Homo sapiens: one gene and its partners. The protein of the gene in region 1 interacts with the protein of each later gene in a pairwise test. Each region holds a gene or a part of one and is shown in the gene's direction. Other genes may lie near its edges.

Evidence for each region.
Region 2: the proteins of M1AP (region 1) and ZNF740 interact in binary tests that used the Homo sapiens proteins (3 or more experiments, as listed by UniProt).
Region 3: the proteins of M1AP (region 1) and UBL3 interact in binary tests that used the Homo sapiens proteins (3 or more experiments, as listed by UniProt).
Region 4: the proteins of M1AP (region 1) and LMNB1 interact in binary tests that used the Homo sapiens proteins (3 or more experiments, as listed by UniProt).

Annotation. Positions count from the first base shown.
Region 1 is NC_000002.12:74,638,323-74,645,348, reverse strand, and holds part of M1AP (meiosis 1 arrest protein), read left to right. Parts: intron 1-240; exon of another isoform or gene 241-261; intron 262-5,021; coding exon of another isoform or gene 5,022-5,073; coding exon 5,074-5,313; intron 5,314-7,026. UniProt on the Homo sapiens protein: Required for meiosis I progression during spermatogenesis.
Region 2 is NC_000012.12:53,183,704-53,190,729, forward strand, and holds part of ZNF740 (zinc finger protein 740), read left to right. Parts: intron 1-1,187; coding exon 1,188-1,337; intron 1,338-1,683; coding exon 1,684-1,773; intron 1,774-2,250; coding exon 2,251-2,374; intron 2,375-2,687; coding exon 2,688-2,806; intron 2,807-3,797; coding exon 3,798-3,887; 3' UTR 3,888-7,026. UniProt on the Homo sapiens protein: May be involved in transcriptional regulation.
Region 3 is NC_000013.11:29,847,602-29,854,497, reverse strand, and holds the start of UBL3 (ubiquitin-like protein 3), read left to right. Parts: upstream 1-3,880; 5' UTR 3,881-4,959; coding exon 4,960-4,986; intron 4,987-5,065; exon of another isoform or gene 5,066-5,464; intron 5,465-6,896.
Region 4 is NC_000005.10:126,773,069-126,780,151, forward strand, and holds the start of LMNB1 (lamin-B1), read left to right. Parts: upstream 1-4,067; 5' UTR 4,068-4,440; coding exon 4,441-4,799; exon of another isoform or gene 4,800-5,282; coding exon of another isoform or gene 5,283-5,491; intron 5,492-7,083. UniProt on the Homo sapiens protein: Lamins are intermediate filament proteins that assemble into a filamentous meshwork, and which constitute the major components of the nuclear lamina, a fibrous layer on the nucleoplasmic side of the inner nuclear membrane.

The DNA of each region.
Region 1 (7,026 bases):
ACTTCAAGAATGAAGCCGCGGACCCTGGCGGTGTTACAGTTCTTAAAGATGGTGTGTCCGGAGTTTGTTCCTTCTGATGTTCGGATGTGTCTGGAGTTTCTTCCTTCTGGTGGATTCATGGTCTCGCTGGCTTCAGGAGTGAAGCTGCAGACCTTTGCAGTGAGTGTTACAGCTCTTAAGGCGGCGTGTGTGGAGTTTTTCATTCCTCCCGGTGGGTTTGTGGTCTCCCTGGCCTCAGGAGCGAAGCTGCAGACCTTCACGGTGAGTATTACAGCTCATAAAGGCAGTGCGGACCCAAAAAGTGAGCAGCGGCAAGATTTATTGCAAAGAGCGAAAGAACAAAGCTTCCACAGTGTGGAAGGGGACCTGAGCAGGTTGTCCTGCCTCTACTTTAAAATGGCGTTTTCAGATGTGAGAGATGGAGATGGATAATTAAATTTAATTATACATTAAATAAGGCCTCTGACTACCTGTTTGTGTGAATTTCTCTGTGTCAGCTTCAAGTTCAGCATTCCATGTAGAAATTGGCCCCATGTACTTAAAGTACAGTTTAAAAATATGTTATGTGCTTTCTTGGTAAATACATTAGTAATTGATTTGGGTTTCTGGTTCAAGATGACTTTCAACAGATTAGCATATTAATTCATTTATTTTTCTAGCTGTATCCAGCACGTAATTGGAACTCAATTTTTAAAAATGTTGAATGAACAAATGCTGACTTCCACTATCCAAAAAGGGAAGTTTGAAGAGAATAACTTCACTGATTCATTTGGGGAAATACATCTATCTATGTATTTTTTTTTTTTTTTTTGAGACGGGGTCTCGCGCTGTCACCCAGGCTGGAGTGCAATGGCGCGATCTTGGCTCACTGCAACCTCCGCCTCCTGGGTTCCAGCGATTCTCCTGCCTCAGTCTCCTGAGTAGCTGGGATTACAAGCGCGTGCTACCACGCCCGGCTAATTTTTGTATTTTTAGTAGAGATGGGGTTTTACCATGTTGGTCAGGCTGGTCTCAAACTCCTGACCTTGAGATCCACCCGCCTCAGCCTCTCAAAGTGCTCGGATTACAGGCGTGAGCCACTGCGCCCGGCCTATCTATGTATTCTTAGATCATTTTTAAAGATTCTAAATTCCAAAGTGTTTCTGAAAATTATCATAATTATCTTTGTATTGTCACAGGGGAAATCAAATAAGCTTTAATTTTCCCTACATTCTTTAGCTAAAAACAATTATATAGAATGATTTTAGTTCTCAGAGGTGGGGACATATTTTTTAGCTATCTTTTTTATCATATTTCTTTTGTTTTCTTTTGATTGTCCTAATGTTCTTCTTGAAATATTTTTATTATTAAATATAACATATATACAGAAAATGTCATAAAACATGAATGTGTAGTTTAATAGTAGAAAGTGAATACCCAATATCCACAATAAAGATCAAGAAATAGAACATTAGGCTGGAAGTGGTGGCTCATCCCTGTAATCCCAGTACTTTGGGAGGCCAAGGTGGGAGGATTGCTTGAGCCCAGGAGTTTGAGACCAGCCTGGGCAACATGGCAAAACCCTGTCTCTACCAAAAAAACACACAAATTAGAGAGGCATTGTGGTGCATGCCTGTAGTGCCAGGTACTTAGGAGGCTGAGGTGGGAGGATCACTTGAGCCTGGGAGGTGGAGGTTGCAGTGAGCTGAGATTGGGCCACTGCTGCACTCCAGCCTGGGCGATGGAGCGAGACCCTGTCTCAAAAAAAAAAAAAAAAAAGAACATTACCAACACCCCAGGACCCCCTTCTTTTGTCTCTTCTCATCATAATGCCTTCATTCTTTCCTAGGGAAAATCACTACCCTCATTTTTGTGATAATCAATTCTTTGCTTTTCTTTATAATTTTATCACTGTGTATGCACCTCTAAACAATATAACTACTTTTGCTTATTTTTAAAATGTAGATGAAATCATGCTACATGTGTATGTATTCTTTGTGTCTTGCTGCTTTTACTCAATATTATGTTTCTTAGAATCATCCATGTTGCCACATGGAACTGCAGTTCATTCATCTTCATTGCTGTATGTGGAAATATACTATGATTTATCCATTTTAATGTAGATTGACATTTGTGTTTTTTTCAGTTTTGGGTAATTGTGAACAAGATTGTTATTAATAGTCTTTTGGCTGCTATGATCTGACTTTTTTTTCATGTATCCTGTTATATATGATTATTTAAAGATTATATGATTAAGAACAAAAAAAATCCAAAAAGTTCTATAGATAAATTATTATAATTAGTAAGAGAGTGCAGCAAGGTTGTTAAAGTCAATATACAAAAATTAATTATAGCTGGGCACAGTGGTTCATGCCTATAATCCCAGCATTTTGGGTGGCAGAGCCGGTTGGATTGGTTGAGCTCAGAAGTTCAAGACCAACCTGGGCAACATAGCAAGACCCCATCTCTATAAAAGATTGTTTTAATTAACTATATTTCTATACATAAGCAACAAACTAAAAATGAAATTTAAAAAGATGAGAAAGGGAAACTTTGTCATCGATAGTTCTTTGAAATGTAAATTAATATTTAAAAATCAACAGATCCCTAAGACTAAAATTTGACAAAAGACAAGGAGATCTTTTGGGAAAAATTACAAAGCTGTAGATTATTTTAGATTTTCTATATACACAATCATTGGCACACAATGACAGTTTTCTTTCTTCCATTGCAATGCCTTTTATTTATTTGTCTTACCTCATTACTACCTTCACTATAATGCTGAATAGAAGTGATGATAGCATGCTCCTTGTCTTACATGGAAAGCTTTCAACATATCACCATGAAGAATGATGTTTGCTCTCTCTTTTTGTAAATATATTTTGTCAGATTATTCCTATCATCTATTCTTACTCAGTCTTTATCATGCACAAATGCTGGGTTTTAAACAGAGGCTTTTTTGCGTCTATTGGGATGATCATATCATTTTTCTCATTTACTTTTTTAATGTGACGAATTACGTGATTGATATTCTAATGTTATATCAACCTTATGTTCTTGGGATAAACTCAACTTGGTCATGCTGTTTTTTTTTGTATATTATTAGTTTCAATTTCTCTATATTTTATTTAGAATTTTTACAAGTTTATGGGTGAGATTATCCTATAATTTTTTTCTTATTACACCTTTATCTGGTTTCACTTTCAAAGGTCGTGCTAACCTCGTAAAATTAATTGAGGAGGCCAGGTGCCGTGGCTCACGCCTGTAATCCCAGCACTTTGGGAGGCCGAGGCGGGCAGAAGTTCGAGACCAGCATGACCAACATGGAGAAACCCTGTCTCTACTAAAAATACAAAACTAGCCAGGCATGGTGGCACATGCCTGTAATCCCAGCTACTCAGGAGGCTGAGGCAGGAGAATCGCTTGAACCCGGGAGGCGGAGGTTGCAGCGAGCCAAGATCATGCCATTGCACTCCAGCCTGGGCAACAAGAGTGAAACTCCATCTAAAAAAAAAAAAAAAATTAGTTGAGGAGTGTATCCTGTTATATATGTTCTTCTGTTCTTAAAATAATTTGTTTAAGATTGAAATTCTTGGCTGGGCGCGGTGGCTCACACCTGTAATCCCAGCACTTCAGGAGGCCGAGGCAGGTGGATCACTTGAGCCCAGGAGTTTGAGACCATCTTGGGCAACATGGCAAGACCCCATCTCTACAAAAAAAAAAAAAAAGATTGAAATTCTTGGTCTTTGCATGTTTGATGGAGCTCATCAGTGAAATCATCTGACCCTCTTACTTGTGGGAAGATATTTGATTACCAATTACATTTCCTTAATGATTATAGACTATTTAGGTTTCTAAAATTTCTTTAGTATTGGTTAGATACATTTTTCTAGGAATTTGTCCACTTTATCAAACTTATTAGCATAAAGCTATTCATTATGTCCTCCTATAACCCTTTTCACGTTTGAGCATTTGTGATGATGTCCCTTTCTCATTCCTTATATTGGTTCTTTGTTCTCAATTGTTCTCACTTCCTAATCTGAGTCCTGGGGATAAGTATAAGTAGCCAGTAGAGAAAGAAGGCAGGAGTATTGGAGGCAGAGAAGCAGCATGAGCAAATGCACTAAAGTGAATATATTTGGTATTGTTTCCGTGAAAATCTTGAGGCGAAGAACAATTTCTAATGAGGCTAACAATTAAGTAATGACAGGTCTTAAAGACAGTTTAAATTTTACCTTATAAGAGATTCAGACAACCAAAGAATTTTAACCAAGGAGAAATGTAGTCATATTTTCATTTTTAAGAATTATTCGTTAGGTACTAAACACACATATGCTAGGCATTGATGAATAATATCAACAAGACAGGTTCTCTACCCTTGGGAAGCTTACAATATAGTGGGAGAGGCAGTCATAGAAACAAATTGTAATAGAGTGCAATAAATGCCAATAAAGAAACAAAGTTTATGAGGGCAGATAGCTTACTTTGAGACAGAAGCTTGAGTTTTTTGGTGTAACTTTTGATTAGTTCCACTCAGCATCTCTAAGCATTCTCAGGCTTACATGATAGGCAAACATCTAGATCTCTTGGGAGCTGTTAAAATAGGATGGCCTGGGCCAGGTACGGTGGCTCACGCCTGTAATTCCAGCACTTTGGGAGGCCAAGGCGGGCGGATCGTGAGGTCAAGAGATCAAGACCATCCTGGCCAACATGGTGAAACCCCATCTCTAAAAATACAAAAATTAGCTGGGCGTGGTGGTGTGCACCTGTAGTCCTAGCTACTCGGGAAGCTGAAGCAGGAGAATCGCTTGAACCTGGGAGACAGAGGTTGCAGTGAGCCAAGATCGCACCACTGCGCTCCAGCCTGGTGACATACCGAGACTCTGTCTCAAAAAAAAAAAAAAAATAGGATGGCCTGGACAAGCTTTAGTACCCAATCTGACTCCTTTCTGGATTTGTTTCCCTCGACTTGTATTTTATATTTCAACAGAGCACACATAATTCAGTTTGAAAACCAGTGGTTTCTCTTTCCTTCCCTATAGGTGTAAAGAATATCCAGCTGGTGGCTACAGTTCCCCCTCTGGTTTTGCTGCCATGCATCCTGGGCGAACTACTGGTAAAGGGCCCTCTACTCACACTCAGATTGACCAGCAACCTCCACGGCTTCTCATTGTGCACATTGCTCTACCGTCCTGGGCTGACATCTGCACCAACCTCTGTGAGGCTCTGCAGAACTTCTTCTCTCTAGCCTGCAGCTTGATGGGCCCCAGCCGCATGTCCCTGTTCAGTTTATACATGGTACAAGATCAGCATGAGTGCATCCTCCCTTTTGTGGTAAGTATATCTATATTTATTCATTTTACCCTGAAAGCAAATACAGTGGTAAGGTTTCTGGAATAGAGATCACAGTTATTAATACTTATAACAATAACCGCACTACTTCTCCACACACAGTAGCCCCCGAGTAACACCATGAGAGCCAGAGGGCATCCTGCATATATAGGGGTGTGTACTGTTGAAGAGAAAATCCAAAATTATTAATCTGGGAGTATAAATAGGCTACAAGCTCCACTCCAGAGAGAGGGAGAGAAACCTTGGCATTGACAGATGTTTGAAATGTAAACAACTGACTCCTTTTATGCCCTTTGAAATGTAAACACACAAGGAGGGAAGCCTCTAAATCTCTTCTGAGGTCTCTGACTATTCAATCATCTTTTAACTTCCAAGACTTGCCCTTTAACCCAGGTACCAGTTTTCTTTGCTCAGAAAGCCCTAACTATGCAAAAACATGAAAATATTTTTTCTACATTCCACATAGACTCAGGTGAAACTGCCCCCTAGGGTTATGGAAGGCAATGGCTGGGCCAGGGGCAGTGTCTTTACAAAGCTCCTTCATACATAAACAATTATCTATGCTCCTCCTCAAAATTTCAATCTTCCCTTTCTCCCTTGTATAAAATTCAGAATCATAGTGAAGAGAAAGACTTCCAGAGGTTCTATGCATCTCCTTCCTTGAGGTAGCCTTGCTGCTAATATACGTTATCAAATGGATATAAGTCTTATTTAAGATTTCCAAAAGAGGAAATTTCATAAATCCATTGCTGAATTATGAATGTAATATATGACTGAAATCTATTTTTTTATTAATGCCTTAGTTTCCCTCATTGGAAGTGGAAAGATAACATCTCTGTTGATACTATAAAGAATGAAAATAATATATATTACTTCATGCTTCTTGAGTTAGAACATACCCTGGTTGCTTTGACAGAACCTTAGGCTTATAACAACTCATGGTTTATTTCTTGACAAAAGTCACACAGGGAAAGTTTTGAGTATAAATGCTCCAGTGCTAAGTATGGGGATTTTGTCTGTGCATTGTTACTTAGGCTGGGTTGGGGATGGGAAAAGGATAAAATTATTTAAGAAATTCAACTGATCCTTTCTACAGTTTGAGCAGAATTTGGTACCTCTATTCATTGTTTATTGCTGTGTAACAAATTATCCCAAAATGTAGTGGTCTAAATTAATAAACATCATCTCATAGTTACTATGAGTTAGGAATTCATAAGTGGCTTAGGTAGATCAGGCTTGGGGTCCCTCATGAGATTGTAGCCAAGATGTCAGTCATCTGAAAGCTTGATTGAGGCTGGAGGATCCAGTTGCAAGATGGCGTATTCACTTAGCTGTTGGCAGAAATTCTTGTTTCCTGACCACTTGGATCTCTCCAAAGGGCTGCTTGAATGTCCTTAATTTGTGGCAGCGGGCTTCTCCCAGAACGACTGATCCAAAAGAGAGAGAGAGCAATGAAGAAGCCAAAATACCTTTTATGTCTTAGTCTCAAAAGTAACATGTTGTCACTTCCTCCACATTCTGTTCATTGGAAGCAAGTCACTGTTCCACCCTAGATAGAATAACAGCAAGCTGATTTACCCTCTTGCCTCAAACAATAAAAAAAAACTGGATAAAACCTATGAAAAACACTTTTCAAAACACTGGACATCACGCAGCAAAGAACAAAGCCCCCTGGGTGATAGGAAGTCAATGAGG
Region 2 (7,026 bases), on another chromosome or scaffold:
ATCATATCAGTTGCAATTGGTAAATACTTAGGGAGTTTAAAATCTAAAGGGAGAAATAGCCTGTAGTCCCAGGACCTTAGGAGACTGAGGCTGGAGGATTGTTTAAGCTCAGGAGTTCCACACCAGCCTAGGCAACATGGTGAAACCCCGTCTCTATAAATACAAAAAAAAATAGCCGGGTGTGGTGGCATTCTCCTGAAGTCCCAGTTACTCAGGAGGTAGAGGTAGAAGGATCGCTTAAGCCAGGGAGGTCAAGAGTGCAGTGAGCCGAGATCGTGCCACTGCACTCCAGCCTGGGCGACAGAGTGACACCCTGTCTCAACCAACAAGCAAAAAATGAAACAAACCGATAGAAAATACAGTTGGCACCAGCAAGATCTGCCAATCAAAAGTGGGCTCTGAAGCTAAGGGGTGTGTGTGTGTGTGTGTGTGTGTGTGTGTGTGTGTGCGCGCGCGCGCTCTGAAGCTAAGGGGTGTGTGTGTGTGTGTGTGTGTGTGAGTGACGGAGGGATTCTCGCTCTGTTGCCCAGGCTGGAGTGCAGTGGCGCGATTTCGGCTCACTGCAGCCTCCGCCTCCCGGGTTCAAGCAATTCTTCTGCCTCAGCCTCCCGAGTAGCTGGGACCGCAGGTGTGTGCCACCACACCTGGCTAATTCTTGTATTTTTAGTATAGACAAGGTTTCACCTATTGTCCAGGCTTGTCTCGAACTCCTGACTTCGTGATCCGCCCGCCTCATTCTCCCAAAGTGCTGGGATTATAGGTGTGAGCCACTGCACTCGGCCCAGCTGAGGGCTGTTGAGGGAGGAAGGAGGAAGGTCCTGAAGGAATCTCCTGTGTCAGTGGGTTAGCAAGATGGAACCTCATACCCACTCACAGTTAAGGCCTAGAAATACCTTCAAAGAAATATGTAGCCACACACTGCCTAGTGCTGATGACAAAGGTGTCAGTAATACTTGATTATTTACTTGATCTATATTTAAATGCTGAAGGATGACAAGATAAGTCGTTCCTGGTGAGATGAGTTAGGGAGGACTCTTGAAGGAAGCAAGGCTTTGGCAGTGAGGAGGGACATTCCCTGGAGAGAAGCAGTTTGTAGCAGGGTGTAAAAGGTAGTTCTATAGAGGATGGCAGTCTGTTTTTGCCCTGCCCTGCCAGGTGACCTGACACCTCATCTCCTTTCAACTTAGGCAAGTCTCCTGGCTTGTGAAGGCCTAGCAGGTGTGAGTTTGGTTCCCACTGCAGCCAGCAAGAAGATGATGCTGAGCCAGATTGCCAGCAAGCAGGCCGAGAATGGCGAGCGGGCAGGTAGCCCTGATGTGCTGAGGTGCTCGAGTCAGGTACAGCGCTTGAGTCCATTGTGGCACCTGGGGATCGGGTGGCCCAAGCTCTCTGCCAGGAGATACCAAGCTCTGATTCCTTGATGCTTCCTCATAGGGAAGTGGGGCAAGGGGATCCAACTGGGGAATGGATGAACATTGGTATTTCAGAAAGCTAAGGAAGGTCTTTTGTGTGCCTTCAACTCTTTTAAGACCAGGTGCTTGGAGAGGAAATAGTTGTATACTTCCTCTAAGCTTTCGGGGCAGGTGGTTTACTCTCATTTATGAATTTTGTCTGAGAGCTGCATTGGGTCTCATCTCATGTTCCGAGATGGGCTATGAGTTTAGATTTGATTTGTCTTCAAAGGGTCACCGAAAAGACAGTGATAAGTCCCGGAGCCGCAAAGATGATGACAGCTTGTCTGAGGCCTCTCATTCAAAAAAGACTGTTAAAAAGGCAGGTAATGGGGTGATCCCCCAAACTCATACAGTTTGGTAATGGGGTAATATTCCTCCTTCTTCCCTCTACCATGTAACCTGGAGCTTTCCCTAGATGCTTTGATCTCTGATAGCCAGTGAGTGAGTCCCCCAGATTTCATCCAGAGACTACCTTGGTAGTTGATCTCCTGCCTTGCTGGAACAGTAATGGTACAGGTTGGGGAGCATGAGATCCCAGATCCCGAGGCATGGGAGCAGGCAGGCTCCAGCTCAAGTCATACTCAGACTGCTGGGTTTGACAGGATAGACAGCTTACCCACTCCACCTCCTTCCCCAAAGGGTCTCTTACCTCCATGGAGTACAGGAGATGGCAGCACCTTTAGACAGCATCAGAGAGGTTCCTTTCTCCAACAGCTGGAAGTGGACCCAGAGTAGAACAGTGTCTCCAGGAAGAGGGCAGTGGTGGCCTCATGACATGCCTGATTATTGCCCCCAGGTGGTGGTAGTGGAACAAAATGGTTCTTTTCAAGTAAAGATTCCCAAAAATTTTGTTTGTGAACACTGCTTTGGAGCCTTTCGGAGCAGTTACCACCTAAAGAGGCACATCCTTATTCACACTGGTAAGTCTCTTGTTTATATTCAAAAGGGGGAGAATAGTCTATCGCTTGTATTCCATGTCTGTTTGTGGCTCTAGTTGGGTTTATTTTAATGGGTAAGTATTAGAAATGAAGGAAGAAGATAAGTCAATGAAGCAGAGAGATTGCATGGCTTTGTATCTGGTGTCACTGAGACCAGCACCTTTGGGGACCTCTCCCCATTTATGATCACTTAGGTGTCTACACATTACTAAGAGTTAAAGTTTCTGAGAAAACTGGAATGAGGTCCCTACTGTACATACCTCCCCACATTCACTTCTCTGTCCACCTGGGCCAGGTGAGAAGCCATTTGAATGCGATATATGTGATATGCGTTTCATCCAGAAGTACCACCTGGAACGCCACAAGCGTGTGCACAGTGGTGAAAAGCCTTACCAGTGTGAACGGTGTCATCAGGTAAGGCTCATCCCTGCTACAATACCCCACACACACTTTTCCTTCCCCAAGAATCAGGGCCACCCTCCACTCCTGCCTGACAAAAGAGCCACCAGCGTTACTCGCCATAATAGTTAACACATCGGGGTGAAGTGCATCTGTCTGGCCTTATGCAGCTGATCATGGGGAGCAGCAATTAGAACATTGTAATAATAATAATAATAGCATTCCATATCACTTACTCTATGCCAGGCACTGTGAGAGCATACTTTACATAGATGATTTTATTTAATCCTCACATTGACTCCCTAAGGTAGCTGTATTGTCCTTATTTCACGTATGGGAAAATTGAGATTCAGAGAAGTTAAGTTTCCCAGGGACACCGCAGATCACGAACAGAGCTGGGATTCAGTCCAACTTCAGAGCTAATGCACTTTGGAGGAAGAGATACAATCTTTGCCCTGGGGGTCAGTATCTGATCTGATGAGAATGTAAGAGCTGGGGCCAAAACAAGACAAGAACAAGAGATGAGAAATGATAATAGCTAACACTTCCTGGATGCATTGCTAGGTCCCAAGCTTTGCTCTGCACTCTTACACTGAATCTTCAGACGCTAGAATAAAAGCTCCATGAGGGCAGAGACTTTGTTCCTCTGGTTCTCTACTCTGTATCTGCCTTGAGATAGATACTCAATAAATCTTTGATGAATAAAGCAGCTGTGCTGTGAGTAGGTACTTTTAGCCTCGCTTTGCAGTTTTGCAGATGAGTATGCAGATTCTGGGCTGTTAGGTAACTTGCCCAAGGTCACACAGCTGCTGAGTGATAGAGCCAAGATTCAGCCCCAGGCGGTCTGGCCTGAGAGCTTGGATTCTCCACCACCGTGTGCTCCTGCTGTCTGTGCACGTGCTGAGGGGATGGAGAATGTGGTATCTGCCTCCTGTGAGAGGAATGAGTTAGCCAACAGGTAGCTGCGTTTGTCTGCTCAGGCACTTAACCCTCCCTTTCTTCTCAGTGTTTTTCTCGGACAGATCGATTACTCAGACACAAACGGATGTGCCAAGGGTGCCAGTCCAAGACTTCCGACGGGCAGTTTTCTCTATAGGCGCAAGGGGCCCCGGGTGGTGGGAGTGATCAGAAGAACCTGCCGAAGAGCACACCCCCTCTGGTCTGATGGTCCCACCACCGCCCCATGTGAACCTGTCCCACTCCTGGAGGAGTGGACCCAGGAGACCAGAAGAGTGCATCAGGGGACAGTGGCCCCAGAACCTCAGCTCTGTAAATAATCTGAGACTATGAGTATCTCGGGGAAGTTCTTACAGCATTCCTGGGTAGGGGAGCTAGTCCCTGGACCCTTGGCTGAGGTCATAGGTGGGGACTCAAGGTACAGGACCAAGACTGAAGTGTGGCTCCCACAACCTTGGACTCCAGCTGGCAGCTGAAATGGAAAAGATTGGGGAAGGGGATTTGTTTGTTCTGTTCTTGTTTTTGTTTATCCAAAAGCAACTTCAGCGGGTAAACTGTGGATACAGGTAATCCAGAGGCATAAGAGTCCTGGTCCAAAGTAGGGACTATAGCTGGTCCAGCTCTCCCCAAAAATTGGGTTTTTAGTTGCAGTAGCTCCTCAGTGTTTCACAATCCTGCACTTCGCCTCCTTTTTGAGGAAGAATAAGGTCAGGAATGGCAGCTGAGCTTACTTTGGCTTCCTTATACACTGTAGGGACAAAAGGAAAAACGGGGTGGAGCAGACAAGGGCTGGATCCAAAAAGTGGATGGCACCTCTTCCTTCCTCAAGGGAAAAGGAAGAGTTGTGCCAGTGGGTGTTGTCATGGCCCATGTCACATTGGCACCTGATGGCATCAGCTCAAATGCCTTTAGGAGGAAACTTGGGTGAGAGTGGCCCATGAAGCCCTTTTCTTCTTTTTTTGGGGAGTCGGTCTTGGAGATGGTATGTGGCTACCTCGCTGCCATTGACTCCTAAAGTGAGACAGATGTGTTGAGCAAGGAGTCATGGAAGTCAAAGTGGGTTCTCTCTCCTTGTGCCCTCTTAGGAACAACCCAAGACTGGTCCCAAGTTGGCTAACAGCTGCTCAAGAAACAAAGGAATCTGGGGTCTTCTGACATGCCTGTTGAGCAGTAGGAGCTGTTCTCCCTCCCCAAGTCCTATCACTGTATTCAGGTAGAGGAGGTAGGGAGGGGTCTGTCCTTTGGTCCCAAAAAACAAGATCTCGGCTTGCTTCCTGATGGCCATCCCTACCCAACAGAGTGTGGGGGATGGGGGTGGGGGTGCTGCAGAGAAAAGACTAAAGAAGAAACCTAATGTAGGTTCCATTCTTAACCATATTCTTTGCTCCTCTCTGCTCCAATACCACCACCTTGTCCACTCCCAAAAAAGTAATCGGGTGTGTGTGTGTGTGTGAGAGAGAGTGTGTGTGAGATATGAATGCATGTATTTGTATGCTTGCAGGAGATGGCATATTATTGAGCCAAACCCTTCTCTGGCCCTCACCTTCAGGGAGGATGAGTGGAAAATAGCCTCCTCTTGCCCAAACATGAAGGGTGCTTGAGGTCTCAGCAGGAGCTGAAGAACACAATTTGGGGAACAGAAGGGCTTTTGTTTTGGAGGGTTTTTTTTTTTAAGATGAATTCAACAGCCTGGTGGTTAGGATGTTTCTAACCCAAGCCAGGGCTTGTGAACATGAATTTTCTAAGGTGAAATAAACCTTTTCTTTCTGCTAAAGAAAGAATCCTTATGGGAAGTTTTGGGGTTTGGTTGACCCCCACTGTAACCTGACCTGACCTGTGGCGGGTACGGGAACTGTCTTAGTAATCATGGAGACTGGCTGAACCTGAGTGCCAAGCTGTCAGTAGGGTCTGAGATGGGAAACTCCTGAAAGTATGATTTCATTTCCCAGAAAATGTAAAGAATGGATACCAGCAATGATTCCTGGCTGTTACCTATTCTGGAGGGGTGGGGTTGGGGAGGGGGTTGTCCATACCTCTGTGGTATGAGTATTTCAGGGAAAAAGAAAGCAGGCATGGCACCCATTCGATTTTCCCTGACAGCATCTGAGATCCTTTTGGGGAGACGCTGAGGAGTGTTTGCTGCCATGTACTCTTACAGCTCTATGCTGACACTCCCATTTGATGTGGTCCAGAACTTAGACCTCAGTCCTTGGATCAGCCCTGTGGTCCCTGCAAGCAGGGGCATCTTTCTGCATGTGAGCCAGCCCCCTTCCTGTTCAAGGGTTCTGCTGGATCTGGGCTTTTCCTGTCCTTCACTTCTGGGATGATTCACCCCACATCTTCCAGTACCCTGTAAACCATTTTAAAATATTTAGAAAACTATCCTCCCAAAAATGCTTTTGAAAATGAGAGCCCTCTGTCCCTGCCACTTACAGCTAGTCTCTTTGGGATAGGGGTGTATGTGGAGAGATTCATGTAAGTCTCACATGAGTGACCTGTGCCCCTATGTGTACTAATGTGTGTACTGGGTCAGAAGGTGCCCTGGGTTCCCACAGACCTTGGTTTCCTGCCTGGGTGGGTGGGAGGGAGGGAACTTCAGAGAGTATGTGCGAACAGCCATAGCAGAGCCACCCCTGCCAAGGACCCAGTGAGGGAAACTCAGGAGCAGGTGGTTGGTTCAGTTCCCGCGCTGATGTCTGGGGCAGTGCATGTGTGAGAAGAGAGGCGCAAAGCAGTGAAAGGAGTGATTTGGCATCCAGAGGGCCCGGGAGCCCCACGGATACCCCAGGGAAGCCACTGACTCACACCGCTGCAGAGGCTCCTGGGCCCAATGCCCGACCCCTGCTGGCCAGCATGGGGCCTAGCACTGGAAGATGCCTCAGGTGTGTTTGGAGTGGGGGAAACGGAAGTAGGGCACGCTCTCAGAGACCAGGATAGAGAGTCAGGGAACCTGGGAAAGAGTAGTGCCAGTTCCGGGTAGGCTGCTGCACCAGGCCCTACCAGCTCAGGCTATAAACAGTCTGCTTTGCCCCAAGTCTTTTCCGTCCACCCCCAACAGCCTTGTCATCACTTAGCTACTGATCACGCCCATGGCTTGACATTGGAGGGTTACATTAGTGGAGTCCGCCACAGCTTCGAACCCTCTCCCCAGATGCCCTTTGCCTCTGCTGTGGCCCTGGGGTTTTATCAACTGTCCCCTTCCTATCCTCCTCTCCACCCTGTTTTTTGTTTTTTTTTTTTTTAAATAATATTTTGCTATGGGGGAGGGGAATATCAAA
Region 3 (6,896 bases), on another chromosome or scaffold:
TCCAGTGGCGTGATCTCGGCTCACTGCAACCTCTGCCTCCCAGGTTCAAGTGATTCTCCCGCCTCAGCCTCCTGAGTAGCTGGGATTACAGGCGTCTGCCACCACTCCCAGCTAATTTTTTTTGTATTTTTAGTAGAGACAGGGTTTCGCTGTGTTGGCCAGGCTGGTCTCAAACTCCTGATCTCAGGTGATCTACCCGCCTTGGCCTCCCAAAGGGCTGGGATTACAGGCATGAGCCGCTGCACGTGGCAGAATCAACATTTCTTGAGACCCCTTCTATGTTAGAGGTTTTCACATAGTTTTCTCATGGGAAGTACAGAATAATTTTACTAAGTCTTTGAAGTGACTCTTACATTGGCTAGAATCAAATAAAAGACTTAAAGCAGAACCTTAGGCATGGGTAGAGTTGTGATTGCCCTCACACTGGGCCCCTGCCCCTGGGCCATGACCAGAACACATAGGGTTCCAGCTGCCCTTTGATAGGAAACTCCACACTGTGTCTGGGGGTCTGGGTACCTGCAGATCAGGCCAGCCTTGAGCAAAACTGAATGGAGATGGCAAAGGCTGTCTCTGCTTCTTATGGCATTTTCCTACTCTCTGATCCTTTGTAAATGACAGAGCATGGCATCATGAGATAATCAACTAAAGAACCACATGATAAAAGTTTACTGGTTTCACAGAAAGTAATTCTTCCATTTAGTTATTTTAACTTCATGAGGTTCCTTGAGAAGATCCTTCAGGAATGATCTTAAGATGGGAGCCATTTTAGACACTTACATGGTAGATGGGGGAGATATATTTGTTAACAAATGTATGAGATATAGTTTACATATTATAAAATCCACTCATTTCTCAATAGCTCTATGGTAGAAACAATTGACGTGTCTATCCATGGATAAATGAATACATAAAATGTGGTATATACATACAATGGAAAATTAATCAGCCATACAAGGGAAGGAAATCCTGACATGTTATAATATGGATAAATCTTGAAGACATTTTTCTAAGTGAAATAAGCTAGCCACAAAAAGACAAATACCATATGATTCTATTCATATGAAGTACTCAGAGTAGTAAAAAAACATAGAAACAGAAAGTAGAATGGTGTTTGGGAGAGACAGAAAGGGGAGTTGGTGCTTAATGAGTTCAGGGAGCAAGATGAAAAGAGTTCTGTGAATGGATGGTGGTGGTGGTTGCACAGTGTGAACGTACTTAATGCCACTGAACTGAAAATGTAAAAAAGACTAAGATGTTAAATTTTATGTTATGTGTATTTTGCTACATTTTAACAAATAAAAAATTACTCATTTAAAGTGTACAATCCAGTGGTTTCCTGTGTATTTACAGAGTTCTACAACCATCGCCAAAATCTAATTTTAGGTTGTCATCATTCCACCTTCCCTGTTCCCCCAAAATCCCTCCTACCCATAAGTAGTCACTTAGGGAAGATATTTTTAACAGGCCATCGGTGTCATGCCCTATTTTTCCAGGACTTGACACTCATAGACTCTTAGAAGGGACCTTAGAGATTTAGTTCAAGCTTCTCAGATGAAGAAATTGAAACTCAGAGAGGCAAAAGGTCACATAACTAATTCGTGGCAGAGCCAGGTCTTTTGACTTCCTATGAAGTTATTTTTCCCATTACAAAAATGCTGTGTCATTCACTTTCTTCCAACTGATGCTGACAATAGATTCCTGGTGTCAAGAAGATGCTACCTTTTCCTGCTTGGGACAGCTGAACTCCTTTCTACAGCCTCCCACCTCACCCGCCTGAGCTGGGAAGCAAAGAGAAAAGAAAGAGTGGAAAAATCTGCAACTGTGTCCAATAATGTTACCTCATGCCTTAACAATGTTAGGGATGAGTTATAATGAGTTTTATTGAGAATAATGTCTCAGCCCCTCTTAGAAGAGTAATTGGAAACACAGCGACTTTTGAAAGACATTGCCTTTTGTAAAGGTGGCAGTGGTAACCTGCAGCAAACAGCAACTCTTGCCTTTCTACTTACAGTGGCACTTAGGCCCGGCAGTGCCATGGCCAGGCAGTGCCATGGCCAGGGAGGTCATTGGATAAAAGTTGGAGTCAAGGGTATGGTGGAGGGACTAACTCTGTGAGTTAGAGCTTTCAAAATGTGCTCCAATATTCCTTCTGAGCTCATTGGTCAATTGAAGTATTTTCACCTGCCCTTATTTCCTGGGGGGCTGGTGTAGGGGTAGGGGGACTCTGTGGTTGCTAAACATTGCAAATGAGCAACCAAGTAACAAAGGCCATGGAAAATCACGTAACTATGGACTTGGAAATATCTAGACAAAGTCCTGAAGCCTAATCACAGTGAGATTTGGGCCTCTCTTCTCTTCTGGCCTTTGGTTTTTCGGAGAATTTGATCTATCTTCCTCAGGGTGATATAGGCCCTTAGGAGTGTTTGGAATTTCTCCACCCAGGCTACTCAAGAGGCAGGTACTCTAAATGTCCTGTGGGTTTCCAACTGATGAGAAACCCAACTGGAGAGATTGCTGTGGGGAATCACGTAGGCTTCTAGACAATGAGCTCCCTGAGGACAGTGACTGGATTCTGCCTCTTTTCAACAGCCCTATAGACAAGGATGTAATAACCCCCATTGCCAACCCAAGACCTTGGCATTTCTGCCACATGATGCTGCTGTTCGCTACAGTGACTCATTTTTAAACTCCTAGTGCCTAGCAGAGTGCCTGGCACATTTGTTTGCTGAATGAGAGAATGAGTAGTGACATTTCATATCAAATGATGCATTATTATTTACAAAGTGATTTATTTCCCATGCATGAACTCATCCTCATAACTACCCCTACTTTACCCCGGAAGGTAGGCAAGACCATTTTACAGATGAGGTCACACAGCTGTAGGTTGGAGAGGTGGCTTTCAGACTCTAAATTCATTGGCATTTATATATAGGCATCATATTGAGACTGCCCTTTCTAAAGTACTCTGTCAAAGGACTAAGAGATATGAATAGGGATTCAGATGTTGACCTCAGATTTAGGAACAAAATGCAGAAATCACAAATGTCCATCTGAATGGTGTCTCAACAATGGCATTATTTTCTCCTATTTGCTAATCACTGCAAGGCATATAGGTTTTCAATTACATTATGAGTTACATAGAATAGAATTTAGGGTCCAGATGGGTAAACTGGTGAATCCCCATGAAGTTTGTAGTAGCTATTTCCTGATACAGATTTGATATAATAACACTGTTGTATGTAATACAGTTTTGGTAATTTCAGTTAAGTAGATTGTAGCTTTATTGCCCTGGGTCTTCAAGGAAACACATGTTCAAATATTCTCACTGCTTAATGAGATCCTTGTTCCTGTTGAACTTATGTGACCTTATTGGAAATCAATGATTGCTTTTGTTCTTCAAAATGTAATGTTGAGGAGACCTAGATGAAATCACTCTACAAAATGCATTGAGATTGCAGGATGTGGAGAATGTGCTGTAATTAAAATGAATGATTCTGCTTGGAGGTACAGCATATTTTAGCTCTGTGTGCATATCGTGCATAAGGGAATTTCTCTATGCAGAATTATTTTCTCCCAACAATTCTCATGATCACAGCACTCCTGGTAGCAGGTATCACTTAACTCCTGGGCAGCAGCTTGTCCAAAGCAAGGGAAAGGGAGCTTTCCTTTCCTCGCAACTGTTGCTATGGGGGGCGTGGCTTCGGAGCTGGGTGAGGAGGCGTTCGGCGGCTCCCTCCCCCCCCCACCCTCGTAGACTACACTTCCCGTGATGCTCGAGGGAATGGTCTCCGTGGTGACGCACTTGGTGTCCGCGGAGGGAGGACGAGGACGGGGGCGGCGGCTGCTGCGAGGGGGGGCCCGTGCTCTCCCCGTTTCCCTTAGTCGCACTCAGGCAGCCGCCGCCGCCGCCGCTGCCGCCATGTTGGTTTGAGAGGCGATGACAGGAGGCGGCCGCGGCGTGTGGGACTGAAAAGTGAAGGAGGAGGAGGAGAAACAAAGCTCTGAGAGGAAACCATTCCCGGGCTGAGGAGAAGGAGGACCCGGCCTCTTCCGGGGACCAGCCGAAGTCGGCGTCGCCCGGAGCTCGCGAGGCCGGGGAGGGGAGGGGAAGGGAAGGCGGAGACCGGGGAGGCGGCGGCGGGGAAGGCGGAGGCAGAAGAGGAGTGGCGAGGAGCCGGAGACGATGCGCCCCGACCCCAGCTGCTGTCCGGAGGCGCCCGCGGCCTGAGCCCAGAGGGGCTGTGGAGTGTCCCGGCCGGCCCCGAGCACCCCCGCGCTGTCGGTCCCCCGCTCCGGTCTTTCGCTTTGGCTTCCAACTAGTTAAATGCCCTTGAGCGCGGGTTTCCGCGGCCCGGCTCTTCGCCCCCGCGGCGCGAGTTGAGCCGTTTCCCCGCGCTGTCCGCGCGGGCGCTCCGACAGCGGCTCTGCAGGGTCCGCGGCCAGCGTCCGGCCACCGCTCGGCCGCCACTCAAGGCTCACGCGTCGATGTGTAGCTACATAGTTATCTGTGTACATCCACGCTGGGGCATTTTTCTCCTGCTTAATGAGGACTTGACTCGGGAGCAAGTGTGAATCATTGCCGGGGCTGGGAAAGGAGGAAGGCGCATTTAACCCCCTCCCACCCCTCTCCATGTCCGTGTGTCACTCGGCTCGGTCCACCTGGCGCGGCCGGTCCTGGGGCTGCTGCTGCTGTTGACGACGACGACGACGACGGGGGCTGCCTCTGCTGTCCCGGGAGTTTCCTCCTGCTCCGGCCACACAGCTCCTGGGGATTGTTCCTCTTCGAACCAGAACCTCGGCCTGACCGGCACTTTGGCTCCAAAATAACTTTATTTTTGGGGGAGAAAGCACATCACGAACCAGTCAAAATCGTGGTTTATTTCTGTAACGTGAAGACTTCTGCTCTTTTTTCTTTGTTTGTTTTTTTCGTAAACATCTGGGTGTATATCAAACGGCAAGATGTCCAGTAATGTCCCGGCGGATATGGTAAGTGACGGATAAGTTATGACACTGATTTAATTGTGGTTTCCAATCTTATTTAATCGGAAAGACGGCAGGCGTGGGGCGAAGATTTGCTGGGGACTGTCGAAAAGCCACTGTGCTGAGCGATTTGGAGAAGTTGGAGCTTCTGGTTTCCCCCTTTTAGGAAGTACTGCTTTTAATATGGGTTCTCTCATTTGGTCGTGTTTTCTAAAGCATTGAAGATAGTGGAGAAGTAGGGAAATGTATCATGGTAGCTTGAGGGGACAAAACATCTCCCTCTTCGCTAGAAGCCTCCGAACACTAGTATTTTAACGTTTCTGAAAACGTCAGGGACAGTGGGCAGAGCTGAGGACGGGTGTCCCTACGAGAGAATAGGTAGGGAAACGGGAATCTTGCTTTATGACACAGACGAGATCGTCATTGCAGTAGGGACGAACTTGATATTTTTCAAGAACAGGGATGCACATCTCTTCAAGAAAAAGTATGTTAGAATTTGCTGTGAGGTTTTTGAAATGTCTGAATACGGATGGCAACAGAAATATAAAGATATTTTGGGATTTTCAGAAACGTAGGCTGACCCTGTATTGGTACTTACAATGAATATTCCAGGGCTTTTTAATGCCAGATATTTATTAATAGTAGATTCCATATTAGACATAAAGCTAAGGAAACATAGTATTGAGCCTCGATCACTGAGTGTTGAGAACTTGAAACAAAAAGTACTGTTGTTTATTGACGCCTTTCTTTGTTTTGTTTATAAAGGGTAAGGTTGTGAGTCGGTTGACTAACAGTAACCGTGTAACCTTACAGTGCTGGGGCTGGGCTTGTGTGAGTGTGAAGTTACATTTTGCAGTCCTAAGGACAAACATAATGCATTTAATTACCAGGAAGAGGAATAATCCTGTTTATGAAAGAATTGAAGTTAACGTAGTTGTGCTCACATATGTTAACATTTGAGTGTTTGTGTATTCAGTGGAAACAAATTGAACTTTGCTGATGATTAAATTTTATTTTATTTTTTAATTTTAATTTAATTTTAATTTAATTTTTATTTTTTGAGACGGAGTTTTGCTCTTGTTGCCCAGGCTGGAGTGCAATGGCGCGATCTCGGCTCACTGCAACCTCTGCCTCCTGGGTTCAAGCGATTCTCCTGCCTCAGCCTCCCAAGTAACTGGGATTACAGGTGCCCACCACCACACCTGGCTAATTTTTTTTTTTTTTTTTTTTTTTTTTTGTGGAGACAGGGTTTCACCATGTTGGCCAGGCTGGTCTCAAACTCCTGACCTCAGATGATCCACCCATCTTGGCCTCCCAAAGTGCTGGGATTACAGGCGTGAGCCACTGCGCCCAGCCTGCTGATGATTAAATTTTAAAACGCCAGATGTTTCTAGAGGAGCAAACCTCATATACAGATTTTATAACAAAAATTAAATGATTCTAAATGGCTTATTTTGACCTTGGTTTAAAGGAATTTTGCTCTTGTTTAATTTCCCATTGAATGCAAAGGAAACACAGTGTTCTGTCTCTGGGGGTGGCCACATAACAGCTTTACAGTCTCCTTCCTGAGTCCTAAAACTCGTGCGTTGTCCTTTTAGTTTTCGCTTCTCTTCTGGTGTGCACACATGAAATAGCCTCCTGCCTGGTTAAGTACGGCTGGACAAGCTTTCCTCCATACTGCTCTTGAAGTTGCCGGGAGCGGTCTCTAGACAGAGCTGGGAAATGCTATTTCCCTTGTTTGATGAGTGATCTGTGGGTTCATCGCCTCGAGCAAAGATTTGCTCTCTCGAAAGCCTCCATTTTATATCATCAAGCACAGTGCAAAATAGGTTAACCTTAAGTACCGTCTATTCTCTCACAGACGTTGGAATGAAATAGATGTGTTATTAAAACAGTGCCGCTACTTCCTTTAGGTC
Region 4 (7,083 bases), on another chromosome or scaffold:
GATTACAGGCATGCGCCACCACGCCCAGCTAATTTTGTATTTTTAGTAGAGACGGGGTTTCTCCATGTTGGTCAGGCTGGTCTCGAACTCCCGACCTCAGGTGATCCACCTGCCTTAGCCTCCCAAAGTGCTGGGATTACAGGCATGAGCCACCGAGCCCGGCATGTGTTTTTTTGTTTTGTTTTGTTTTTGAGACGGAGTCTCGCTGTGTCGCCAGGCTGGAGTGCAGTGACGCGATCTCGGCTCACTGCAACCTCTGTCTCCTGGGTTCAAGAGATTCTCCTGCCTCAGCCTCCTGAGTAGCTGGGACTACAGGCGCGCACCACCATGCCCAGTTAACTTTTTTGTATGTTTAGTAGAGACGGGGTTTCGCCGTGTTGGCCAGGATGGTCTCGATCTCTTCACCTCGTCATCCGCCCGCCTCAGCCTCCCAAAGTGCTGAGATTACAGGCGTGAGCCACTGTGCCCGGCTCCATTTCCATTTTCCTTGAAGGAAATCACGGAATAATTTTCTTAAAGTTATACAGCTATCAGTAGCACATCCTCAATTGTCTGACTCCAAGAAAGTTGTTTTATATAATAGGATATGTATAATGTGAGCCTCTTCAAATAATCTGAAAATTGAGGAACTCTATCAATAGAAAGCTTCAGGCCGGGCGTGGTGGCTCACGCCTACGATCCCAGCATTTTGGGAGGCTGAGGCTGGTGGATCACGAGGTCAGGAGTTGGAGACCAGCCCGACCAACATGATGAAACCTCGTCTCTACTAAAAATACAAAATTAGCCCGGTGTGGTGGCGCAGGCCTGTAATCCCAGCTACTCGGGAGGCTGAGGTAGGAGAATCGCTTGAACCCTCCAGGAGGTAGGAGATGGAGGTTGTGGTGAGCTGACATCGCGCCACTGCACTCCAGCTTGGGCAAGAAGAACGAAACTCTGTCTCAAAAAAAAAACAAAAACAAAAACAAAAAACAAAGCTTCATGGGGTTGAGAGCAATAGAGATCATTGCTGGAATCACATATAATCTTAAAACTTAAAAAATGGACAGGAAATAATTTTAAAAGAAAACTGACAATTTTTTTTTTTTTTTTTTGAGACGGAGTCTCGCTCTGTCGCCAGGCTGGAGTGCAGTGGCGCGATCTCGGCTCACGACAACCTCCGCTTCCCGGGTTCAAGCCATTCGCCTGCCTCAGCCTCTCGAGTAGCTGGGACTACAGGCACGTGCCACCACGCCCAGCTATTTTTTTTTTTTTTTTTTTTTGTAGTTTTAGTAGAGACGGGGTTTCACTATGTTGGCCAGGATGGTCTCCATCTCTTGACCTCGTGATCCGCCCGCCTCGGCCTCCCAACCAAGTATTTTTAAAAGACAGGTAAAGGGGAGCAAGGAATGAAAACCATAAAACCATATGGATTGACTATATCACCTGTCGTAGTGGAAAGGGTCTCACAACCAAGTGAGAACAAGCAGATTTACATTCCAATCCTGGTTCCACAGCCTGGGACCCAGCACTCACCTTCTTTTGGTCTAATTTCCTCATCGGTAATTTATTTTATTTAACTTTAAAAAATTTTTTTTATTTTTTTGCAGATAGGGTCTTGCTTTGACGCCTAGGCAGTGTCGCAATCTCAGCTCACTGCAACCTCTGCCTCTGAGGTTCAAGCGATTCTCCTGCCTCCTGCCTCAGCCTCCGGAGTAGCTGGGACTACAGGCGCGCGCCACCACACCCCGCTAATTTTTGTATTTTCAGTAGAGGCGGGGTTTCACTATGTTGACAGGCTGGTCTGGAACTCCCGACCTCAAGTGATCTGCCCACCTCGGCCTCCCAAAGTGCTGGGATTACAGGCTGAGCCACCACACCCGGCCGGTTTTCTCATCAGTAATTTAGATTTTAAAGTTCCCTTTAAGATTACTTGAATACTTAAAGTCTAAGCTTTTCGATTCTTTATTTCTCAATGAGGTTAAGAAAGGAAGTATTTCATGGCCAGGCGCGGTGGCTCACGCCTGTAATTCTAGCACTTTGGGAGGCCGAGGCGGGCGGATTGCCTGAGATCAGGAGTTCGAGGCCAGCCTGGGCAACACGGTGAAGCCCAGTCTCTACTAAAATACAAAAAATTAGCCGGGTATGGTGGCGTTGGTCCCAGCTACTCAGGAGGCTGAGGCAGGAGAATCGCTTGAACCCGGGAGGTGGAAGTTGCAGTGAGCTGAGATTGTGCCATTGCACTCCAGCCTGGGCGACAGAGCAAGACTCCGTCTCCCTGCCATCCTCCCCCCCACCCCCCCACCCCCCAAAAAGCAAGGAAGTATTTTAGGAAACCGGACAGGAAATAGAACCATTAATAAGGAGAATGTCATCATTCACAGAGTGCCAAAAATTCATCTGGGATGAATATGCAGCTCCCAGTGCTCTTCACTAATTCTTATGTACATGACTTGATTAACAGTTAAAGAATATCCTGGTCTCCATTTCTGCCATTTTAAAAGTAAGTAACCATTAATTACAGAAGCGTTCCTAATAGGTGGTAAGGTGGTCATCTAGGGTATAGCTAAGGGCCAGACTCGAGTCAATTAGAATCCTGGGACCTGTCAAACGCAGTCCTGCGGAGCAGCCTTCAGACAGTGAATCTATAAAATGGATGGTTTCTTTCTTTCTTTTTTGAGACGGGGTCTCCCTGTCACCCAGGCTGGAGTGTAATGGTGCCATCTCGGCTCACTGCAACTTCCCCTTTCCGGGTTCAAGGGATTCTCCCACCTCAGCCTTCCAAGTAGCTGAGATTACAGGCACCCGCCATCATGCCCGGCTAATTTTTGTATTTTTGTAGAGACGGGGTTTCACCATGTTGGTCAGGCTGGTCTTGAACTCCTGAGCTCAGGTGATCCTCCCCCACTCGGCCTCCCAAAGTGTTGGGATTATAGGCGTGAGCCACCGCGCCCGCCCGGATGAATTTTCAAATAGAAACAATCCAGTTTCCCACATCACACGGAGATTGTGTGGATGGGTAATCCATGAAAAGCCTGGTGCTGGCACTCAGTCCCAATAAATGTTAGCTAAAAATTAGGAACTTTTCAAAGGGATGAATGTGCTTTCTAATAGAAGTAGCTGCCAGTGACATCTTGGGAGCCTCTTTTTAAAAGCAAAAAATTATTTCATCTTAAATTTTCACAAGTTCAGATTTTTATGTACCTGATTTTAACGGAGTATGAAACAGCTTGCTCTCGTAGTTACTCACCGTCATATGTTAATCGTATCATTTCTGAGCTGTTTTTTGATTTTACAAACCCTTAAATTAAGAAACGGATTAGGAACCGCCCATTAACACTGTTGGCAAATGATTTAAAATCAGGGTTGCTGGTTTTTCTGTGATAATCTATCGGCTTCAAGACGCACAGATCTCACTTTCATGGAAAGAAGTTGCCTGATACAGTTTTCCACCGGAGAGAAAAATAAAGGCTGGTACTTGGAACCTGCAAGCCGTGCATTTGGAACCTCGGACTCAAGTGCCTATTACGTAATTCCACAGCGTCCCGGCCTCCAGGCCGTTTCCCGAGCCCTCCAGCGGAGCGGGGGATAAGGTTACCACGCCCGCGGTGGCCGGGGACACTCTGAGTTTCGCGTGTGGCTTTTAGGGACGTTTATATTTGAATTTCCCTGAACCGCCGAGTGTGGGCGGTGGCGCAGATCCGTCCCGGAAACCTCCGGGCTCCTTCCCGCCTTTCTCAGGCCCGGCCCCTCCAAGGGGTCCCCGCGGGGCGGCGGGAGGGCCCTGGGCCCAGAGCCGCGCGGGTGGGCAGTCCCAGGCGTCCTTCCTTACAGCCCTGAGCCTGGTCCGGGAACCGCCCAGCCGGGAGGGCCGAGCTGACGGTTGCCCAAGGGCCAGATTTTAAATTTACAGGCCCGGCCCCCGAACCGCCGAAGCGCGCTGCCTGCTCCCCATTGGCCCATGGTAGTCACGTGGAGGCGCCGGGGCGTGCCGGCCATGTTGGGGAGTGCGGCGCCGCGGCCCGCGCCACCTCCGCCCCCCGCGGCTTGCCTCCAGCCCGCCCCTCCCGGCCCTCCTCCCCCCGCCCGCCGCTCCGTGCAGCCTGAGAGGAAACAAAGTGCTGCGAGCAGGAGACGGCGGCGGCGCGAACCCTGCTGGGCCTCCAGTCACCCTCGTCTTGCATTTTCCCGCGTGCGTGTGTGAGTGGGTGTGTGTGTTTTCTTACAAAGGGTATTTCGCGATCGATCGATTGATTCGTAGTTCCCCCCCGCGCGCCTTTGCCCTTTGTGCTGTAATCGAGCTCCCGCCATCCCAGGTGCTTCTCCGTTCCTCTAAACGCCAGCGTCTGGACGTGAGCGCAGGTCGCCGGTTTGTGCCTTCGGTCCCCGCTTCGCCCCCTGCCGTCCCCTCCTTATCACGGTCCCGCTCGCGGCCTCGCCGCCCCGCTGTCTCCGCCGCCCGCCATGGCGACTGCGACCCCCGTGCCGCCGCGGATGGGCAGCCGCGCTGGCGGCCCCACCACGCCGCTGAGCCCCACGCGCCTGTCGCGGCTCCAGGAGAAGGAGGAGCTGCGCGAGCTCAATGACCGGCTGGCGGTGTACATCGACAAGGTGCGCAGCCTGGAGACGGAGAACAGCGCGCTGCAGCTGCAGGTGACGGAGCGCGAGGAGGTGCGCGGCCGTGAGCTCACCGGCCTCAAGGCGCTCTACGAGACCGAGCTGGCCGACGCGCGACGCGCGCTCGACGACACGGCCCGCGAGCGCGCCAAGCTGCAGATCGAGCTGGGCAAGTGCAAGGCGGAACACGACCAGCTGCTCCTCAAGTGAGTGCTAGCTGGCGGCCGCGTTAGCGCCAAGGAGGGGCGGGGGCGCAACCGCGGCGACCAGCTCACCGGGTTCTGCCGTGGGGAGGGAGCAGAGGCCAGGATGCACGCGTCCTTCTGAAGGAACAGGGTCTCGGTCTCCGGAAAGGAGAAAGAATCTAGAGTTCATAGCGGAGCAGGGGTCGCGGAGGGGGCTCGAGCTGTAGCGCTGGGGGGCCGTGATGCCCATTTCTAGATTTTGGATACCCGCTGGGACGTGGTAAGTGCGCGCCTGGGACTGCCGAGAAGGAGCTCCCGCTTTCGCACTCGAATCCGGGGAGCCGGCGCGGAGAGGCGGCCCCTCAGGCCCCAGGTGCGGGGAGCTGGAGCGCGAGCGCGCGCTCGCGTGCGCGCCCCAGTTTCCGGCCGGCGCGAGACAAAGCGTCTAGCGGATTTGCAGTGCCGGGATGGGCGGCCGGGGAGGACTGGCAGCCCGCCTCTAGAATGAATGAGCTTCGCGCGGGCAGAGAGAGGAAGGGGAGGGACCTTCCCGCAGCATCCGCGTCTCCTGGGGGTGGGTCCCGCTTTGGCGCGCTCAGTCTTGGCCCTGTGACGTTTTGCGAAGATTCTACGCCTGCTTTAGGCGGGAGAGAGAGGCGGAGCTTGATCCGTGCGCCTCCAGCCAGCCCCGGGCAAGTTAGGTTTGCTAGCTGGTTAGCTTTCTCTGGGGAAATGTGTCCTGTCCCAGCGGGGATGGTGCGGTCCCTCGGGTGGTTCTGCGCAGGGAAGGAAAGCTGGGTTTGTGCATGTCACGGCTACCGTTCTTAGAATTGCGGTTCTCCTACCCCTCAGGCAGCGGCCCTCTGTCCCCAGCTTTTGCCTCCTCGTAGTATAGTCAGGCTTTCGGGTAGAGACTGTGCTTAGTACCCCTTAGTCGACCACTGTGCAGATAGTAGACCAGGGCAGGTGACAGGGTGCTGTGTAAATGCTGAGTGTTTGAGCGAAGGAGAGTTTGTAATTCACCTAAGCGAGTGCGAGTTTTCATTCCAGTGCACAAGGATACATTTGCAGACCTTTGCTGGCCTTATTTTGACTTTCTGATAAGCAAAATGGCCTGTCATCAGTAGGCAACAAGTGTTGATGTCATGCTTTAGAGATTTGCAAAATTTGGGTCTGAAATTCATGGTCGCCATTAGCACTGCCAGCTGAAATTTCTGGAGGTACCTTATTCTCACTTTGACACCCTTTGCCCCTGGATGTCTTTCTGTCTGTATCTGCGTGAATGTCCCTGTCCGAAGTCTCTGAGATTTTGTGTATTTTTACTTATCCCTCCTATCATATGTTTTCGGTTCATAAAAAAGCATGTGCACGTGGTAAGAATAAAATAGTATAGACTGGTTTGTAGCGAAAAACGATAACTGCACTACCTCTTTCCGGAGGCAATCACATTTATCCCTTTTTGTTTTTATTTCTTTGGATATTTAGTTATACAACTCGAAAATAATACTAAGCTTGTATTTCCCTTTCTTGGATTTACTAAGCCTTGGTTTCATCTTTTAAAATGAGCAGTCAGTTAACTCACACTATTATTTCTATGTTCCTCCAAATTTTTTGCCACTGAATTCCTTCAAATCTTAGATATCGTTGCTTGTAAGACTTGCCATTATTATGTGTACCACTAAGAAAATAAAAACATCAGGACCAACTGTGTAGGATCCATCCTGTTGGACCCATCATGATGGGTTTCATAGATATTAAAATGTCAAACAGGGCCGGGCGTGGTGGCTCACGCCTGTAATCCCAGCGCTTTGGGAGGCGAGGTGAGCGGATCACTTGAGGTCAGGAGTTCGAGACCAGCCTGACCAATATGGTGAAACCCCGTCTCTACTAAAAATACAAAAATTGGCCGGACGCGGGGGCTCACGCCTGTAATCCCAGCACTTTGGGAGGCCGAGGCGGGCGGATCACGAGGTCAGGAGATCGAGGCCATCCTGGCTAACAAGGTGAAACCCCGTCTCTACTAAAAATACAAAAAATTATCCAGACGTGGTGGCATGCATCTGTAGTCTCAGCTACTTGGGAGGCTGAGGCAGGAGAATCGCTTGAACCCAGGAGGCGGATATTGCAGTGAGCTGAGATTGCGCCATTGCACCCCAGCCTGGCGACAGAGTGAGACCCCATCTCAAAAAAGAAAAAAAATCCGGGCGTGGTGGCGGGCGTCTGTAATCCCAGCTACTGGGGAGGCTGAGGCAGGAGAATCGCTTGATATCCAGGAGGCAGAGGCTGCAGTGAGCCAGATGGTCCA